Regions from separate parts of the Homo sapiens genome. Here region 1 is linked to region 2. Evidence: fine-mapped expression QTL. Tissue or cell type: lung. Region 2 holds a variant in brackets; the other region holds the start of a gene. All regions are shown on one strand. Distances are between the middles of the regions.

Evidence for each region. PIP is the estimated chance that this variant, and not a neighbour inherited with it, causes the effect.
Region 1: BRINP3 starts here. The variant in region 2 is the best candidate, but not a certain one, in a credible set for the expression of BRINP3 in lung (GTEx, PIP 0.57).

Annotation. Positions count from the first base shown.
Region 1 is chr1:190,475,672-190,480,671 of GRCh38, forward strand. It overlaps BRINP3 (BMP/retinoic acid inducible neural specific 3), which reads right to left and starts at 2,193. Exons shown (of 8, transcript NM_199051.3): 1 at 1,777-2,193. It overlaps BRINP3-DT (BRINP3 divergent transcript), which reads left to right and starts at 2,589. Exons shown (of 3, transcript NR_110716.1): 1 at 2,589-2,821; 2 at 3,411-3,469; 3 at 4,674-5,000.
Region 2 is chr1:190,701,742-190,707,013 of GRCh38, forward strand. All of the region lies in intron 1 of LINC01720 (long intergenic non-protein coding RNA 1720), which reads left to right. Among named protein-coding and RNA genes, the nearest start is that of LINC01720, 79 kb to the left of the region's middle. The variant T/G (reference allele first, on the strand shown) is at 2,909.

The DNA.
Region 1 (5,000 bases), 230 kb before region 2:
TGTTGATAACCCTCCAGTTAAAACGTTCTTGGCAGCGGGAGCCCCTCAGATGTAAATTTCCCTTTCACACGCTTGAGCTTCAGGTATAATACAGCAAAACGCACTTACCTAAATACTGACTGTCTGTTCCTTACTGGATCTGACTGTACTGAAAGTTTTTTTTTTCTTTTTCTTTTTTTTTTCCTCCCTCCACCCTTGCGCAACAACAGCAGTCCTCCAAAGAGAATGTTTGAATTGAATTATATGAAGCCCTCCTTTCTTCAAATGAAGTCACGGACTCTGATGGCACTGGCTTGTCAGGCAGGACGACCGGACTGGGAAAGAGACCAGGTAGAAACTAGTGACCTAGTGACGGGTGAGGGGCGCCAAGTGGTGCGGACCACAGTCTCAACCCCCGTTCCCTCTCGGTGGGAGTCAAGGGGGAAAAGCCCTTGAATCCCGAGACGGGGGGATGGGGCGACGCTGCAGCTGGAGTACTTTTATGTCTGGGAGCTAAAAGGGCTTTTGAATTTAAAAAAACATTGCTTGGGTTGTCGCGTCAGCCATCAATGACGACAAGAATAGTTATTTCCCAGAAATTAAAAAAAAAAAAAAGGAAAAGAAAAGCGTGAACAATAGGTTCTTACCTCCATGTATCCCAAGAAAAGGAAATGTTGTAGAGACCAGGAACTTGTCCTTAATTTGAGGGCGGGGGGCGGATGTTCAGAGAAAACCCTCAGTGGGTGTTAAAAATTACCGATACATGCAGGTTTGGCATTTAATGAATATCGTGCTTTCCTCATTATGTGTCAATTGTGAAGTAAAAGTAAAGATTAAAATGTTTCTCAACACAACTATACGGAAGAGGAGGTGATAATCTTGTCAGTTAAGTCCATAGAAATGTTCATAAAAGCAAAAGGCACTGACCATATTAACATGCCTATTAAACACAAGGGTTGGGGGCAGACAAGTATGAAGAGTGAGGCAATTAAATTTTTCATGTAAAGTCTATTCTTGAATTTCAATTTATCAGAACCAAGATAATCAGGGGTTTCTTCTGATTGCTCCTCTCTGAAATGAGTACTCTGTGTCCAATTAACTGTTCACCAGCTAATTCACAAAATCAGAAATGTACTGACAAATACTATGCCTGAATTAAAATACAATGCCTAAAATAACGTGCTTATGTGTGATTTGAAATATTTTAAGAAAAAAAAATGGTGCCCTCAAAACTCACAGTCCTCTTCCTACCATTCAGTGGCATTTTAGTGCTTAAGGTCTTGCTAAATTCATAAAAATACACTTTGCAACAAAGTCTTCCTTCAGTCATGTAATTGCTTATCATGAACAAATGCTGACCTGAACAACCTTCTGAATATCCGACTAGCGAACTTTCCAGACCTTGCAATTGTCAGAAGGTCTCTTTTAAGCTCTCTCTTAGATAAACCTATAAAATGTGACATTTCAAATGGCACAGGAATGTGTGCCAAGAAGGGTTAATGGGGGTGGGGGCGATTAATGTCCGTGTAACCCATAATATAAATGAGGACAAATATTTTAAAAATAAAGAAGGTAAAAGATATTGGGGTAATACATGGGATATTGGGGTAATACATTACATGGGTTATGTCTTAGCAGTGCAGTTGCCACTAACATACTAATTAATAAATATGGCCATATGGATCTTTCAGTTCTGAAAGTAACAAAAATGTGAAAAATGAAATACTTCAACAAAACAGAGCTTATTAAAAATAGCAATAGTTAAGTTTCTAGTAACAGATAAAGAGAATAACTTACCAGAGGAAATTTCAGGAAGCAAGAAGACTGTGAGAAAAATACATCCAGGATTCAAATAGATATTCCATGATCTTCCAAATCAAGGTAAAGTAGTGAGCTGCAGGGTAGTAGGACTTTAAAATAATCAGCAGTTCCTGGTGGCATGTAACCAAGTAAAAACCAGTTACACAGAGAGCCACGAACCCCCAAGGCAAGAAAGCAGAATGTGAAAATGCTTTATATGGGGGGGTGGGGAATGGTGGGGGGTGATTCGTGGTGATCCTTAAGCAAAGTGAAAATTTACAGGCTGCACATCCCCATACAGTGGGGAAAGGCAGAAGCTGTGTAACCCCAGAGAACAGGAGGTGGAATACAGATAAATCTGCAAAGAGAAGTAAAAGGATGTGTTGAAGACAACGAGATAAAGAGAGAACTAGTGAGCAAGGCTGTAGTCATCCTGATAGATATAGCAGCAAGAATGATTTAGGCTGCTGGGGAGGATCCAATGAGAATTCAAGAGGGCACCACTTCGGAAATCCTGCTCTGATCTTCCCACTCTCAGTTCTTTAAGAGTTACCTGCGTTGGGACCATTATCATTAGGATTAATAGTATTCCATCAGTGCATTTCACTAGTATTTCCCTTGAACATTTTCACTTGCAGCAACTGAGGGAGGCGTAGTAAGGAAGCCCAACACAACCAATTCCCCCACTCCCCAAATAAACCACTACGACCGGTCACATTACGATGACCAAATCATCAGCGATTTGCACGAGGCGGTGGGGGGTGGGGGGTGCGGGCGGTGATCGAAGGGCTGAAGATGCGGAGGAGGCCGAGTCGCTAGGCGCTTTCGGGGGCGCTGTGCCGGTGAGGCTTAGGCAAGGGGACGGGGAACCGTGGTTAGATGCAGCAGCGGCGGCAGCAGCCCTCCCAGGTCCCACTTCTTTGGCGTTCCTGCTGCCTGTGACTCAAGACAATTGACTTCCACCTGAACCCTCAGCTCCGAACGCCTTGCATTAGAAGCTAGAGCTTTGGAGGTTCTGAGGACGGTCCCTGGGGAGCAAGTGGTAGGTTTCGAGGCGCCCGCTTCCCCTCTGATTCCTGCAGTAACTGAGAGAGAGTGTGCCAGAAATGGCTTTGCTGCCGAATGCATTATCTTGCCATTTTCGTGTCCCAATACTGAACAAACGATCGCCTGATCGATCGGTAAGATTAGCTTTATTCCTTCTCCCTATTCCTCTCCTTGGCCCCATTCCCTCTGCAAGTCCAAACCCCAGTCTCTCTCTCTCTCTCTCTCTCCCTCCCTCTCTCTCTCTCTCTCTCTCTCTCCAGGAACTTCTTCCTCTTTGAAACCGGTTTCCCAAGGGAACTGCCTGTGTGACTGAGAGGCTAGTAATCTGTTTGTAGATGATTTATATTTTGGCTGCAGAATGAATCCCCCTCCCTACTCGGAGTACTCTCCTTAGAGATGATCCCCCGCCCCCTCCCCATGGGTTCGCTCTCAGAGCTGGGATCTGTATAAAGAGCGCTGTGGGAGTCTTTTGCCCTCCGCTCTAGCTCTATCTTCCTCCGGACCCCGAAGCTTAAGAATTATCCGCCTCACTCTCTTTTTTAGAAATAGGAGGGAAAGGTAGAGTGGAAATTGATTTCTTGCAGAGACTGAGGCGCTGAATGATAGAGGGAATAAACATTTGCCCTGGATAAAAATGTTCTTGGTAAGTAATCTTATTTTCTGCGGTTGAAAAAGAAACAGATTGCTTCTCACTGCCCCATCCCCCACTCCATTCATTTATTTGCTCTCTGTATGTAAATCACGAGCTGGGTCAGTGGAAATTTTTTTTTCCTCTTCCCTAGGAGAGTAGTAGCTTGTAAGGGTGAAATTGAAGTAGAGGGTTTTAAGGAGACAATATGAACGCTTTAAGGTCCTTTATATCCTGCATTAAAAACTCAAAGACAGATAAAGCAGTTAAATCCCTGTTTGTTTCCAAAAGTGGTATTTAAGTATTTCCCTTATTTCCTACTAACTGTCTTTCCTTTCTGAAAATAAAGAAAAGAGTTTTAGGTAGTGGGCTCATGTCTATGCTTTTAGTATGTCTTGGCCATGTTCTGAAATACAATTTCAGTTCCAAAATTAAGAATGGTTATTTTTCACATTTCGCAGGTATATTAAAGCTATAGAAACCACTTATTAAATGTGCATCTCGGTTCCAATTATTGCACCAGATACAAATTAGTAGTATCCACAATGGCATATTGTGGTGGTACTACAAATTCATAAAGCCCTCTGGTTTTCCATGAGTCTCTAGCACCCCCAGCCTGTGCACGCTCACAATGTGAAGAGTGGATTGGTGTAGCAGTAGGGAAGAAGCCAAACGGCTCTTGATTGTGCTTACATCATATGTCATTAAGTGTAGAGAATAACATGTTTTGCAAATTGTGTGAACTTGGTTTTCAAGAGTAAGCTGACCATTTTTGATGCACAAAATTAAGGGAGATTTGCTCTCAGAAAAATCATTGCATTTTTAATTATAAAATATATTTTACTGGTAAAACATTTAAATTAAACTTTCTTGTCTATTGTTATTATCCTACTGCAATTTATTATCCTCTAAATTTAATGACAAAGAATAAGCTAATTGGCACAAAATGCATTCCTGATGAAAACAGGATGACTGAAAAATCATCTGAAATGTATAATACTAAAATGTTATTGGTAAGATAAACTTCATTTTAGAAAATCAGTATTCTAGAAATCAGTAGTATAAAATTTCAGAAGAGAGGTAGTCAAGTGGCATATTGCAAGACAAAATATGTTTGTTCTCAACTATCTATATAGTCTTTATAGCCATCAACATTTGCAAGAGAAAAAAAATTCACTAAGGGCATGTTGGTATAACACTTTTTTCTTTCTCTCCTCAGGCTGTTGTCCAGCTCTAATGATGTCCTAGAGCAGAAGTGTTTCTTCTGATGTCTCATTTTAACAAGAGGATGATGTCTGTGTATGTCTCTGTGTTTTAGAGAGGCTGGCAAATGCTGCTAAGAGGATCTGAGGTTCACATAAAGAGGATGAAAATTCTGAATTACTTTCATTGCAAATAAACCTTAACAATTGTGAGAGTTAGAGAGCATACTTTTCACATAAGACTTTGGTATGCTGCCTAAAGCTACTTACATAATTTGCTATTCAGAGAAATGCATTTGTTTATTGAGGACCCACCCGGACTTAAATTGGAAAAATGTAACATT
Region 2 (5,272 bases):
TGATTACTACATCTTCCATATTTATTCTATGAATGAGATATATTAAAAATCATAATAATGCATAAATTTCATTCCTAAGCCTCTCTGGAAATAATCCATTGTCAATTCAACATTAATATTGTTTAGAACATATTTCTTAAATGGGAAATGTGATAGATACGAAGGGAAAGAAGTAAGTCAGAGAAGTATGACTGTGGCTTACTATGTATGTTGCAAATTTCTACGTTACAAATTATGACATATACTTAAATATTACTCCAAAATATGAGACAGTATATACAACTGGATCTTCCCAATACATGTAGAAAATACAATATCACATTATTTTTCTTATGGAAGATGTTTTTCACTTTTTTCAGAGAATCAGGTTCACTAGGACACTAAGGAAACTTAAACCAAGATTTTTCTTTTCTCTTTTCTTTTTTAAACATGTATACCATTTTTTGTATCACCAACCTCCAACCAACTTCAGAGACAATTGGTTTTCTACTGCCACTCAAAATATTGTACTTTGTGCTAAATTTTGTTGTTATAAATATATAAAATATGTGTTATAGACTTTGGAACAGTTTTGAAAGGTCAAGTTTCATCTGTTTGTGGTGTTACCATCCCCACTATACACTTGAGTGAGATCCTCTCTTGCTGATATTGAACAGAATAAAAATATGAGAGACGGGCAGTTTTAGGAGGAGGAAGATAAGTTGCATTTATTTTCCTTGGGTCTCTCCCTTTTTTTCCCCTCAAAATTTGGCTATTTCAATTTTTCACAAACTCAATAATGGAACAAAGTTTCTTAATTTGTGGAATATTTATATGCTTAACATTGTTTAATGTGATCTCTGCTGCCATGTGTAGCAGCATTAAATATAGATTTTAGAAACCACCAGACTTCAAATCTTAGATTTGTCACTGTGTCACTTTGGAAAATTATATTCTTGGTTCTCTGTTTCTTCATCTATAAAATGAGAAGATGATAGTATGATTTAAAAAGGATGTTGTGGGAACTCAATGAATACACATATATAAAATACCACGTAGAATGGAATTAAGCTTAGAGTCCCACATAAGCACTCTGTAAATGTGAACTATTGCTATCGTGGTTAACACTGGTGAGCTCAACTGGGAAAATAGCTAGGAAAAACTTGATAGGTAGTAAATTTCTGGTGAGTACCTTAATTAAAAATGGAAGTAGGGATTCCTTATGGCTTCCTTCAGCAGGCTGCACAAACATACCTATGGATAAATAAATTTTGATTTTAAGCACGGTAGTTTAATCAAGATCTTATAATAGCATCGTTCTCTTTGAGAGGCAGGGTGGTAGGAGTGTTTTGGGGGGAAATGATGTCTCCCATTTTCATTAAAAGAAGTTTCCCTCCCTCTACTATTTACTCATTTATATAGATTAAAAAGATTTATCTCATAAAGACAGGGACTATTTCTCAGATACAGGGATGGTGAAAAAAAAAGAGGCAAAACAATCATTATTTACAGATAATACAATTGTTAAACTAGAATACCTCAAAAATGAAACCATTTGATTATAAAACAGTTTAGTTATATGTCAAGATGTAAGTTAAACATATTAAAAAGCAAAGCATTAGCTTCATATGCATCACTAAATTCCAAGGAATAATATAATGGAAATTACCTCATCTACCATAGGACTAAAATATAGCATTGTATTTCTAAAACAAAAGGATGCTACTTAACTAAAGAAAAATAAACAAAAAATTTTTCAAAGCAAAAAATACTTTGAATAAGGGTTTGAATAACTGGAAAGATGTATCCTCTAGGAAAGGAAAAAGAGGGAGGGAAAGGAAAAGGAGGAAGTGGAGGAAGAGAAGAAGAAGGCGAGAAGGAGAAAATATCTTTTTGTATAAATCAGTATTTAGTTAGGAGACAAAAAGTACACAGTAATTTGAAAACAGGAAGTTTTATATAAAGAAATATTAACCATATTCCTGAGATTGGTTATTAAGACTGAATAAAAGAAAAAAAAGGATTCTAAAAATTTCTCCAAGGCTTAAGAAAGGAAAACAGTTGGAAGGAAGCTCTCTTCCTCAAAACTGTAATTCAGCCATCATCGGAGGGTGTGTTACTGCAGCCTACTAAATGGCAGAGAAGTTGCAGGATTGCCTTGGTGGTCTGAATGTATACACAGTGTTGGACTGAGCCCGGTGAGCAGGGAGCTGTGGACAGGGACTGAATTTAGAAGCTCCTCATTAGTGTGACACCCGACTGAGGCTGGAGCATGGGTAACTGTGGTTGGGTCTGCCAATCAAAACATCACCCACTGGAATGCTATCTGACTAAAGGTAATGGACAAGGAGCTGGAGACTGGCCAGCAAACATAAAGCCCTTATGAGGATGCTGGCAGGTCAAAGCTGGCAGTCAGAAATCCTCAATCAGCTCATTGTAAATAGTTGAGTTTGGTCAACGGGGAACTGTAGACCAGGACTGGCAAGGAGGTAACCGTCTGTTGGGTGTCACTTGATCAAAACAGGCAAAAGGAGATCTGCAAGCCAGGAAACCCCATCTGGGAAGCTGGGTGGCAAAGGCTGATGAGGCAGAGAACCCAGAGGGTAAGTGGCAAGCTACAAGCTGAGCACTGCTGGAGTCTCTGTTAATTGGTGGGTGCTTTACAACACAGGAACAAGCCAACAAAGCATACACAAAAGGGAAAGAAAACTTCTCTTCTTATCTTTTCCAGGGTCCTTCTATCAGTCTTTACTGACAAAGCTTAACATTGTGATGATTGACAAAGGAGAAACGCTGTAGTATCACAAGCAGGAGAAGGAAAGGTCAGCTTGGAGCTGGGAGGCAATAAGTTAATTAATAGGCACAATTTTGAATGTCAATTATGTTCAAATTGATTTGCAGATTTAAAGCAATTGCAACTAAATCCAAA[T/G]TTGATTTTGAGAGAATTTGTCAAAAATATATTCTTGTAAATCTGAAATGACAGGTTTAAATAAGAGTTCAAGGAGCCCCAAAACTCTGCAAACGGGATGCGGTGCAATCCTGGTAATCAGGGCTCCAGGCTTCTTCAACCAGAGCAGCTCCGCTTTCATCTGCTCTATACTTTTGAGTGCTGCAAAGGCTTAGTTTGAAGGACCCTGCTATCAAATGAAAGCATTTGAAAAACATATTCTGCAAAGTCTAAGCAGTGGAAAAATAAGATAAAAAAGAAAAATAAGGTATTAGACTTAGCAATCATTAACATTTACAATTACCCTAGGCTAAATATTCAAATATTTATTCAAATATAAATAGATTGCCATGGAAAACTGATTGCTTATTACAGACACAATTATAATAAACAATTTGATGTATGTTACAAGTGGCAACTCAAATCAAAAGAAAAATGTTTATTTTTCAACAAAGGGTGTTGGTATGCTTGAAAAAGCTATTCTAAAAACAAAGTGTCAATTTATATTCTTACATCACCTATAAAAATAAATTCCAGATGGAGTAAAGAGTAAAAAACAAATTTAAAAACCCTATGAAAGTTTAAAAAACAGATAGTTATCAAACCTAGAATGTGGGTAGAATTTATAACATCAGAAGAAATAGATGCACATACTAGGCAAATATGTACCTATGTCCCCAAATATTAAACATTTTTAATGTCAAAATGTAAGTAAATAAGCAAACTATTTTTGCAACTCCAAAAAAGAAAAGGTCTATATATTTCAAGTGATTTCCATAAAAACAAAGGTGGCAAATCACGGATAATTCTAAAACCAAAATAAATAAGTGATTATTACTAGACTCCTCACAAAGAACTGTTAGAAGTGACTAACAGAGATGCTAATAAAACTTTATAATTATAATCAAAATAATTATAATTAAATCAGTATTTCTAAGCATATAAAATATCCTGACTTAATTACCTAGGAAAATCTACTGTTCAAAATGCTCGCTACATTAGGTGCAGTAATTAATTTCTGTCAAAATCTAGCTGAGATGAATATGCAAGCATGTAACTATTAAAATTATTTCAGAAAGTTGAATGGGAAATGCTGGTCCTCAACTATAAAAAATATAGTACTCTAAAGTTATCAAATGTGGAGGGACATTTTGCTACATTTCTATTAAGAATTTCACAAGCATGAAAGATTTATAGGCCAATGTCAAGGAAACTTTCACTAGAGTTAGATGAAACTGAACCTGGAATAAAACATGGGTTTGTAGCTGTAGAGGAGTAACCAAGATATACCAAGAGGAATAAATAGCACTAGCAAAGGTTATAAGACAGGAGAGTAAAGATATAATTCGGCTATGGTAAAAAGAAGACAGAAAATATGAATTCTGGAGCAGATTACAGAGTGCCTTGTAAAGTCAGTCTAGAGCATGTAGATTTTACTATAGTAAGCCTAATGCAACATCAGTATGTCTGATGAATCTCATGGGAAAGAGACTAGAAATAGATTACAAATGAGAAGGTTGCCATAGTTTAAGTTAGAGTTAATATATGCCTGTAAAAATACAGTGAAATTTTATATATGAATAAATAAACTTATGAGTAAAACCTTTTCTAATTGACTAGAATCAGGGGGAAAGGGAGAGTAGATGTTAACAAAAATTCCAATCATTTTTCAATCTTTTGTGGCAAAAAAAAAAAAAAAAAGCCACTATCTATGGCAAGGAATACTCAAGGAGCGTTGGTATTAAGGACAAATAATGGGTTTGATTTTAGACTTGCAGTGGAATGGGGAAACAAAATAATTAAGTAAAACTTTTTATAAGTAATGGTCTGATCAAGGAGCCGGGAGGGAGGTTAAGAATATGTAGGCTTAGTATGGAGGGGTTAAAATTAGGTACTAAACTGAAATTTATTATTTATTCATCTTCCTACAAAGAATCATTTTTAAAAAGGAATTTCTTTTCTTTCTTTCTTTCTTTCTTTCTTTCTTTCTTTCTTTCTTTCTTTCTTTCTTCTCTCTCTCTCTCTCTCTCTCTCTCTCTCTCTCTCTCTCTCTCTCTCTCTCTCTGTTTCTTTCTTTTCTTTGAGACGGAGTCTCACTCTGTCACCAGGCTGGAGTTCAGTGGCATGATCTCGGCTCACTGCAACCTCCGCCTCCCGGGTTCAAGCGATTCTCCTGCCTCAGCTTCCTGAGTATCTGGGACTACAGGCATGCTCCACCACACCCAACTAATTTTTGTACTTTTAGTAGAGAGGGGGTTTCACCATGCTGGCCAGGATTGTCTCGATCTCTTGACCTCATGATCCGCCAGCCTCGGCCTCCCAAAGTGCTGGGATTACAGGCATGAG